Homo sapiens: one gene and its partners. The protein of the gene in region 2 interacts with the protein of the main gene of each other region in a pairwise test. Each region holds a gene or a part of one and is shown on either strand. Other genes may lie near its edges.

Evidence for each region.
Region 1: the proteins of JMJD4 (region 2) and H4C11 interact in binary tests that used the Homo sapiens proteins (3 or more experiments, as listed by UniProt).
Region 3: the proteins of JMJD4 (region 2) and H4C8 interact in binary tests that used the Homo sapiens proteins (3 or more experiments, as listed by UniProt).

Annotation. Positions count from the first base shown.
Region 1 is NC_000006.12:27,821,780-27,825,077, forward strand, and holds H4C11 (histone H4), read left to right. Parts: upstream 1-2,312; 5' UTR 2,313-2,345; coding exon 2,346-2,657; 3' UTR 2,658-2,701; downstream 2,702-3,298. UniProt on the Homo sapiens protein: Core component of nucleosome. Nucleosomes wrap and compact DNA into chromatin, limiting DNA accessibility to the cellular machineries which require DNA as a template.
Region 2 is NC_000001.11:227,733,235-227,736,987, forward strand, and holds the start of JMJD4 (2-oxoglutarate and iron-dependent oxygenase JMJD4), read right to left. Parts: upstream 2,069-3,753; 5' UTR 2,040-2,068; coding exon 1,778-2,039; exon of another isoform or gene 1,583-1,777; coding exon 1,417-1,582; exon of another isoform or gene 799-1,416; coding exon 673-798; exon of another isoform or gene 448-672; coding exon 180-447; exon of another isoform or gene 1-179. Other genes in the region: SNAP47 (synaptosomal-associated protein 47), read left to right, coding at 2,176-2,265. UniProt on the Homo sapiens protein: Catalyzes the 2-oxoglutarate and iron-dependent C4-lysyl hydroxylation of ETF1 at 'Lys-63' thereby promoting the translational termination efficiency of ETF1.
Region 3 is NC_000006.12:26,284,619-26,287,574, forward strand, and holds H4C8 (histone H4), read right to left. Parts: upstream 917-2,956; 5' UTR 882-916; coding exon 570-881; 3' UTR 508-569; downstream 1-507. UniProt on the Homo sapiens protein: Core component of nucleosome. Nucleosomes wrap and compact DNA into chromatin, limiting DNA accessibility to the cellular machineries which require DNA as a template.

The DNA of each region.
Region 1 (3,298 bases), on a different chromosome or scaffold from region 2:
CAGATGAAGAGACGCATAGGGCAAGGCTTGGAAGGGTCCTGAAAGCAAAGCTTCTGTGCCATCTCTATGTGGAACCAGGAGTCACCTCCCTAGGATATCTATGTGTTCACAAACCAATAAACTCCCTGACCTTGGTATCCAGAGCTTTTATGAGGGTTTTATTATATAGGCAGGATTGATTGAATCATTGACCATATGATTGAACTTGTTGGGGCACAGGGAAAGCTTCCCCTATGTACTCTGAAGCTTCACTGAAAATCACTGTCAAGAGGCAGATTAATAGAAGAAAAGGCATACACATTTATTTAACATGTACGCAGAAGCCTTCAGAATGAAGACCTAAAGATACAGGGGAAATTGTCCATTTTTATGCTTAGGTTCAACAAAGTATGGACAGCTATGTAGAAATATGACTGGACATAATGTGTATGATCTAATGCTAAGAGACTGAGTGGGGAAACCCAGCCAGGCCTGTCTAGATTCTTCTTGGGCGCTCTGTGTAGTATTTCTTTTGTATATGGGGCAGGGCCCTCTCTGGAACGGAGGTCCTACGACTTACAGTCAAACAAGGTAAGTCAAATAATTTCTTTGTGGCCAGTTTTTACACGAAAAAATAAAATTTTTAGGTTTCTTATTGTTTTTTTCTTTTCTTTTCTTTTCTTTTTTTTTGAGATGGAGTCTCACTCAGTTGTCTAGCCTGGAGTGCTGTGGTGTGATTTCGGCTCAATGTAAGCGCCGCTTCCCAGGTTCAAGAGATTCTCCTGCCTCACCCTCCTGAGTAGCTAATATTACAGGTATGTGACACCACGCCCAGTTAATTTTTGTATTTTTAGTAAAGACGGGGTTTCACCATGTTGGCCAGGTTGGTCTCGAAGTCCTGACTTTAAGTGACCTGCCTGCCTCAGCCTCCCTAAGTGCTGGGATTACAGGCATGAGCCAGCGCGCCCGGCCTAAACAAGCTTATATTAAAGATGACAATTTATTACTTATAAACAAATCAATAAATCTTGCTGGGTAACTAGTTCATTAACTCAAGACTCAATCAACAAAACTAAAAGTAAATTCTGAATGTAACATAGAATTTAAAAACCATAATACTCAATGCTGGTAAACATACACAGCAGTTACTGCTGGCAAAAGTGAATGGAATAAAACTTTTGAGGAAAATGTAGTAACAGTTATCAAAATACCTTAAAATCTGCATCCTTTGTGACAAAGCGCTTCAATTCTACATTTTCCTCAGGAAGTAAATTTTGTACAGTTCTCCTTTAAATTAGGAAAAGAAAATTAGCACATTATTGCTAAGTACTAGAAATACTGTGAAAGTGGACCTAGAAAATTCTTATGATGGAATATTAAGCAGATATAAATTACTGCTTTTAAAATTTTTCCTAATGTGAATTTTCTAAGCTTTTAACCGTGAACATAGATTCCCTTTGGCAAACCACCTTGATTAAATTATAGACAGAATAGAATTTTGGTAATAGTTCCGAGTATGTATAATGTTAAAGGTGGTACTTAATCCGCAGGGAAAAGATGAATTATTTAAAAAATCTGGTTGATTAATAAATTCCTAGGGAATTGGTTAACACTGTAGCAGGCAGAATTCAGGAGAAGAAATAATAAAGACATTAAAATCACTTTTGTAAACTTTTTAAATAAGGGAAATTGATTAAAACAACGCGAAGTTGTAAAATGCCATATACTGCATACATTTTGTGGGAAAAAATGTGCATTTATCTGCTCACCAAATTATCTTATTAGCTAGCAGTAGAGCTCTTTGTGTGATGGGAAGATGGGATAACAGGCTGTTGTTACTGTACTGGTTTTTTTTTTTAATATATTTAAAAAAAAGAGTGTCTCCTAAAGTGTAAGCGCTATCATGCTGGACTAATGTTTTAATTTAATTTAATTGTTGTCTTGGTAGAGATGGGGTCTCGCTATTTTGCTCACGCAGATCTCAAACTCCTGACGCCCAGGTACACTCCCATCTCGGCCTCCTAAAATGGTGGGATCACAGACGTCAGCCACCGAGCCCGGTCACTTTTTTGTATTCCCCACAGTATTGATGTATATCTTCTGCGTTCAAAAGCAATTTTTTAAAGCCTCATAACGTGGTAACAGAATACTTTGCACATTACAAAATTCAGAACACGGAAACAAGAAGCTCGCTTTTTTTTCCCCCCTATTTCGGTTTGGCCCTTTAGATTTCCCCTCCCCCACCGGGGCGGGACTTCCCGCCGACTTCTTTCAGGTTCTCAGTTCGGTCCGCCAACTGTCGTATAAAGGCGCTGCCTCAGGCCAGAGGCCTCACAAAGCGTTGGGTGAGACTCCTCTTGCTCGTCATGTCTGGCCGCGGCAAAGGCGGGAAGGGTCTTGGCAAAGGCGGCGCTAAGCGCCACCGTAAAGTACTGCGCGACAATATCCAGGGCATCACCAAGCCGGCCATCCGGCGCCTTGCTCGCCGCGGCGGCGTGAAGCGCATCTCCGGCCTCATCTACGAGGAGACTCGCGGGGTGCTGAAGGTGTTCCTGGAGAACGTGATCCGGGACGCCGTGACCTATACAGAGCACGCCAAGCGCAAGACGGTCACCGCCATGGATGTGGTCTACGCGCTCAAGCGCCAGGGCCGCACCCTCTACGGTTTCGGTGGTTGAGCGTCCCTTTCTATCAATAAAAGGCCCTTTTCAGGGCCACCCTACTTTCTCAGCTGAAGAGTGGTAACACTGAGGAGTGGTTTTGGTAGGTACGGAATTTTGCTTGGTTCTGAGTCAGTTCTGGGGGGAACAGTTTTTTGAACACAGCGGCACACGTGTGGCCATTCACCCGGGGTCACTGTAGGCAGGACTAATTACGAGATGTAATGTCTAAACTTGCTCAAAATTCGTAAGCTTGTTTACGTAATGGAGAAAATACTCGTACACAGAATGTGCAGTACCAGAAACGTTTATGTAACCCCCGTAGTGAGCTTGACAGTGGTAATCGGAAATCGTTTTTGAAAAGCCTCCAAATCCACAAGTATTTGTGGGTTTTTTTTGTTTCGTCTTTGTCTGCGAGTTGGAGTGCAGCGGCGCGATCTCGGCTCACTGCAACTTCCGCCTCCTGGGTTCAAGCGATTCTCCTGCCTCAGCCTGCCGAGTAGCTGGGATTACAGTTTTGCGCCACTACACCCAGCTAATTTTTGTATTAGTAGAGATGGGGTTTCACTATGTTGGCCAGGATGGTCTCGATCTCCTGACCTCGCGATCCGCCCGCCTTGGCCTCTCAAAGTGCGACCTCTTAAAGAATTTTAAGATAA
Region 2 (3,753 bases):
AGGGACCGGCAGTGGGTGAAACAGAGGCTAGGCCTCAGCGACACCACCTTGTGAAGGGGTCAGCCTCACCCATGAGCCACCCCATTCCAGCCCAGCTCTGGCTGGGAGAGTGGGGAGGTGGTGCTGCCGTCTTCCTGCAGGAAGGCCCCTGATAGGGGGCAGGAGAAGCAGCACATTACCAGGTTGTGCACCTGGTGGTGCCAGCCACTGGGCACAAACACCATCTCGCCCGCTTCCTGCGTGATCTCCAAGGGTGGGCCAGCAAGCTGGTTCCGTGGGTGCAGGTGTGTGTCGCAGAGTGCTGGGGAGGTCACGTCGTAGGGCAGGTTGCCGTGGCGGTCCCGCAGGGCCTCTTCCTGCCCTGGGGGGAAGAGGAGCCACTTCTTCCTCCCACAGACATTGACAGACCAGCTGAAGGAGCGGAAGATGTCAGCATGGAACGGGGACCTGCGGCAGCAAGAGCGCCTGGTTCATGCCTGTAGGGGCTGGTATGGGCTTTGCTTGGCACCCCAGAGGCCTGGTCCAACTGAAGGAGGGGTGGCCCCTTGGTCTCAAGGGATGGCACCCACTGTGAGGCCTGTGCCAAGCAGCCCCCCTCCTGCCACCCTGGGCCTCCCAGTCCGTTCTGTCACCAGGCCCCTTCGGGTTCCACTCCCACATCCGTGGCCTCACCAGCTGCCCGCAGGCCCCGCGTAGACAAAGCGGTAGTCATCCACATCCAGTGCATCCCAGAACTCATTCAGCCAGTCGGACGAGAAGTACACAGGCAGGGTGAAAACGTCCTCCACCGGAAAGTCCCTGTGAGGAGGGCGCAAGGGCACCACCGACAGCACGTGAGGCACGAGGAGACTAGGGCAGCACGAGTGGGGCAACTGAGACCAATCGGCTCCAGTGGAGCTTCCAGATGGCTGCAGCCCCCAAAGAGCCCCAGACCCTCCTCTGAGCCAGACGCTGCTGGCGGGGGAGGGGGCGGGGCAGTCTGACTACAATGGTTCTGCTTATTAGAAAGTACTGATCATGCCTATAATCCCAGTGCTTTGAGATGCTGAGGTGGATGCATCACCTGAGCTCAGGAGTTCAAGACCAGCCTGGGCAACATGGTGAAACCTAGTCTCTTTAAAAAAAAAAAAAAAAAAAAAAAAAGCCGGGAGTGGAGACGCCTTCCTGTAATCCCAGGTACTAGGGAGGCTGAGGAGATCTCTCTCAAAAAAAAAGGAAAAAAAACCATATTGACCTCCCAAAGAACAACACTTGCAGCCATGCGGAAGACAATCCAGTTTCTTTTAAACTGATTAAAGTGCCTCACGGGGAAAAATAGCTCCGTTGTGCACCCAGGGGCCACCTTCATCAGAAAGGCCTCTGGGTTCACGCAGCGCTAGGGAAGGCAGCGCCTCGGTGCGTCCCAAGCCCCATTACCTGCACAAGTGCCAGTCTTTGAGGTAGAGACAGCCCCTGGGAGAGGAGTAGCCCGCCTGTATGTACTCTTTCCAGTAGGTGATGTAGTCTCTGAGAGTCATGTGCTCTTTGGGGTTCGAGTTGTATTCCTGGACCCCACAGTTTGCAACTGGTACAACCACGTCTCCTGAAATGAAAGGCACGGTCCATGCCATCTCCCTGGGCCCCGTCCTCACTCCAAACCGTCTGCAGAGGAACTCTCCAGGGGCCACGCGCCTGGCCTCCCTCACCCTCCCTGGTGCCCCTCTCTAGGCGGGGGCCTCCCGGGCCTGGGTCCCGCCGGCCTTTCCTCCCCGCCCGGGGTCTGCGGCCGCCGCCCCACCGTAGGTCCGTAGCAGGTGGTCGAAGTCGGGCCTCCCCGCGGGCGTCACCCAGCGCCGCCGGCTGCCCCAGCCCTGCGTGAAGGCGCTGGAAAACACGCAGGGCAGGTTGGGCAGCAAGAAGCCCCGCACAAAGTCGGCGTAGGAGAAGGCGCCCGGCTCCGAGACGAAGGCTACCCGGCCCGGAGCCTGGCCGACGCCGGGGACATCGACCCCCAGGCCTCGGAAGTGGCTGTCGGCGAGGGCGCGCGTCTCGCGGTCCATCCAGCTCAGCACGGGTCGAAGGACCCTCCTCCTCACTTCCGCCGGAGCGGAAACGGTGAGGACCAGCCTCGGAACCAGAAGACGCAGGGCGCCGCGTTTCTGCCCCGCCAGCGCCTGGGGCTCCGGGCCTGCACGCATGCGCGCGGCTCGCCGCGGTCTTCACTGCGCAGGCGCCGAGCGGCCGAGGCGCCGCGGTCGGCTCTGGGACTCGTCTGGCGTCCCTCAGGTGAGCGACGGTGTTGGTCTGTTGGGCGCCCGGCCCAAGCCAAGCCGTAGCGTCCGCCCTCGGCTCAGTCCGCGCGCTGTGGCTGACACAGCCCGAGCCCTCCTTCCCGCATCCCCGGGGGGTGGGGGGTATGCGGGCTGCGCTGGGAGAGGGGCGGGGACAGAGGCGGTTCTGGGGGCGGGAGTGCGGCGGTGCGGGGGCGCCCAGGGATGATGGGACCCGGAGAGAACGGTGGGACCCAGAGGGAGAGCTGGGGGGCCCTGGGATGGTGGGATCTAGCGGAGATGGTAGGGTCCTGGAGGAGATGGTGGGGACCTGGAGAGGACGGTGGCACTTGGAGGGGATGGAGACGGGATCTGGAGGGGACGGTGGGACCTGGAGGGGATGGGGACAGTGGGGACCTGGAGAGGACGGTGGGATCTGGAGGGGATGGGTACAGTGGGGACCTGGAGAGGACGGTGGGGACCTGGAGAGGACGGTGGCACTTGGAGGAGATGGGGACATTGAGGACCTGGAGGGGACAGTGGGGATTTGGAGGGGACGGTAGCACTTGGAAGGGATGGGGACAGTGGGTTCCTGGAGGGATCAGTGGCACCTGGAGGGGACATGGGATCTAGAGAGGATGGTGGGGACCTGGAGGAAAATGGTGGGAGGGCTGGAGGGGGCAGGGTAACCTAGATGGGCGAATGGGGCCCACAGGGGACCTGGAGGGCATGGCAAGGGGCCCCAGGGGATGACGGGTGTCTGGAGAAGATGGTGGGGAATGAGGGAGGGTGTGAAATGAAGGTGTGGTGGGAGTGTGGGTAGGGATTTGGGGCTGTGTACACATGAGCAGGGCTGAAGTGGGAGGACATCGGAGTAGTGACATGAGGAGTGTTTTGCCAAACTTGCAACTGGAGTTACCCCAAAAGTGGCGGCAAGGGAGTTCCCCACACTATCCTCAGGTGGGACCAGTTGGGATACCAAAGAAAGAAGTGCTAAATGCATGGTAAGCCCAGAGCAGTTTTTTTTTTTTTTTTTTTTTTTTTTTTTTTTTTTGAGACAGTATGCAGTGGCACCATCACAGCTTACTGCAGCTTCCACCTCCTGGGCTTGATGAATTCTTTAATTCTGCTTCAGCCTCCCAAGTAGCTGGGACTACAGGCATGAGCCACTATGCCCAGCTTAGTTTTGTTTTTTTGTTTTTGTTTTTTTTTTTTTTTTTTGTAGAGACAGGGTCTCTGTGTTGCCCAAGCCGGTGTTGAACGTTTGGGCTCAAGCAATCCTTCTGCCTTGGCCTCCCTAAGTGCTGGGATTACAGGTGTGAGCCACTGCGCCAGGCCCTGCCTAGAGGTTTTGTTAGGGGAACTTTCATATAGAGTGGGCTGCGGTAGTCCTCGAGACGGGCAGTAAGGGAAAAGGGATGTCCTCCCTAGGTATGTCTCTTGGAAGGGGTGTGGGTTATGGAGTTTATAGGAAGGTTTCAGGAATTTGGCTCAGGGCCAAGGC
Region 3 (2,956 bases), on a different chromosome or scaffold from region 2:
AAAGCAGCAGCGCGCACGCCGCCTGGACTTGGGTCTGCGATCCTACTCACGCAGATGTGTTGCGCTCACGGATTCGCCTTGGTTTAAGGCCCGCCGTCTGGGTGCGAGCTTTCTTTGTTTTTAGCCCTTCCCGCCATTTTGGAAAGGGTAACTTGCAGTCTCTCCGCGAAGTTTCCAACTTCTGTAGTCTTTGAGAACCTTACGAACGCTTCAAGCTTAAACTGAAGGAGGAAGGCCCACGGGAATTATAAACTGTCACAATCCAGCTTACTCACTGATATCTAGTGTTAAAATGCCACAAGAAAGCTAAACATATTCAACATACCAACTTCCCTCAAGCAGAAAACAGTGGCTTTAAGTACTTTATGCCCAAATCCTAAACATGCGAGATTAAGCACGAGTAATTAAACGTTACCTGCAAATCTACACATGTGCACAGTAACTACTTCTCAGCAAAAATCTGGAACAAAGCAGGATAACAAGATGTCTGCTCTTTTATGAAAAAAGTGGGCGGCCCTGAAAAGGGCCTTTGGTTGAAAATGAAAATAAGAGTGCAGCAAGCAGGAGCCTTAGCCACCGAAGCCGTAAAGAGTGCGTCCCTGTCGCTTCAGCGCGTAGACCACATCCATTGCTGTCACGGTCTTGCGTTTGGCGTGCTCTGTGTAAGTGACAGCGTCACGAATCACGTTCTCCAGGAACACCTTCAGAACACCACGAGTCTCCTCATAGATAAGGCCAGAAATTCGCTTGACACCGCCGCGACGAGCAAGGCGCCGGATAGCTGGCTTAGTGATGCCCTGGATGTTATCGCGCAAAACCTTGCGATGACGCTTAGCTCCTCCCTTACCCAAACCTTTTCCACCTTTACCACGGCCAGACATGACTAAGCAACTTCTAAAACCAACTTAAGAAACCTAAACGCCAAGGCAAAGCAACGCCCTTATATGCCGGGAATTCGGACCTAATTGAAGACTGAAAGCGCGCATACCGGAACTTTGGTCCTGCTTCTTGGCCCCACCCCGCATAGCCCAGCCCTGGATGACGTCACCAACGACTCCAGCCTTTGGCATCTGAGCGCCGGCTCCGCGGAGGCGTCTCTTGCAATTGCTGGGAAATAGGAATGAGAGTTTTAAGGCTGTTTTAACAACCAAATCAGATTAAATAAATTAACATGTTTAAATTGTTATCAATTGTTCCTTCAGTTGCTTTAGGACGATTGGAGAGGAGCCTCGGTCCACAAGACCGGAAGCCTGAGGAGTGCAGCTTTGTCCCCAAGGTCACAGTGACTGGCTTTCTGCTGCCGGCTGTAAAGCACATGCGGACCGAAACCCCCCTTCGGAAGTGTTTGAAAACTGCAAGATTTCACCCTCTCCATCACCAAGCCAAGGGAAACATAACCAAAAGGGTTTTCTTCCCGATGGCGAAGGCATGATAGGTTAGTGATTCGTGGTAGAATTATTGCCCTCCGCGCGGAGGCCTGATTCTATTCCCAGTTTGTTCTCTTCTTTCCCTGCTTATTAAAATTTGTAATTGCCATTTAAATATCTAACTGCCCCTCACAACTGCACCCAGTGTGTAGGTTTCGGGGTGGGGGTTTTTTTTTTTCCTTTTTTTAATTTTATTGAGACAGGGTCTCGCTATGTTGCCTGCCTGGGTCTTCCAAAGTGCAGTGACTACAGGCGTGAGCTACCGCGCCTAGCCCACCAGTGTATTGATATTTATTTTTCTATCCCTAGTTTTGTTTTCTGTTTGATTCTGGTGATTCCTTTTTCCAAAGTGAGTTGGCAACCTGTGGTAGCCAAAGAAGTAGGCAACTGCTCGTAGGTTTTTTCTTAAATTACGAGGTAGTCTGAACGCATCTCCTGTAAGTAGTTAAGAGTACTGTGAGACCGTGTGCCTGGCAGAACAGCAGAGTGGCGCAGCGGAAGCGTGCTGGGCCCATAACCCAGAGGTCGATGGATCGAAACCATCCTCTGCTAGGTCCTTTTTTTTTCTCCCCCCCCGTCTATTTTCCTGAGGATCCCTTTTTTTTAAGTTACAGTTTTTTAGGTTAAACAATGACGAAAGAAAACAAAATGAACCCGAGTATTTCTTTAATTCCAGAATTACAAGCATTTCCGGGAAATAATGTGAAACTACAATCTCTGCATGTACAATTTTGATTTTCATGGACACCCAAGTGTCATTAATCAATATGTCATCTGTAAACAAAGCAAATTTCTCTTGTTTAGAGGCTATACCACTGTTGCAGCCAGTTATGACAGTTGTAAGTTAACCTGCCAAGCAAGGAGAATGCTTACATAAACTGAGTGCCAAGGGTGGGGTGGGGTGGGAGCCCAGGAATGGAGTTTTATATCTTTTGATACATAATTCAGAAAGCACTATTTGCCAAGTAGTTAAGGCAATCGACTAGGAATTCCTAAATCCCCACACAGATTCTTTTCACCTACAAGGATCTTAATCTCGGAAAATGAGTTGCATTTTGAGGTGGGTGTGGAGTCTTCATAGCACTGATTGAACTCTGACCTGAGAAAAACATTTTTGCGGACCCTACTGGTAAATGTGTCTCTACTCTCTACCATCCTTTAATATCTCAAATAGAACTATTCGCTGTGCTTATTTTTTAAACATATGTGTGGACTGCTTTATGCTTCTCTCTCTCAGAAAGGATTCCTATTCAGATATTTATGTGTCACATACTGTATTAGGAACTAAGAAAAAAAAAAAACCTTAAGTAGTCTACAGTCTAGATATGCTTTTGTTGTTTTTGTTTTTTGTTTTTTGTTTGTTTATTTGTTTTTGAGATGAAGTCTCACTCTTGTTGCCCAGGCTGGAGTGCAGTGGCACGATCTTGGCTCATTGCAACCTCCACCTCCTGGGCTCAAGAGATTCTCCTGCCTCAGCCTCCCAAGTAGCTGGGATTACAGGTGCCTGCCATCACACTCAGCTAATTTTT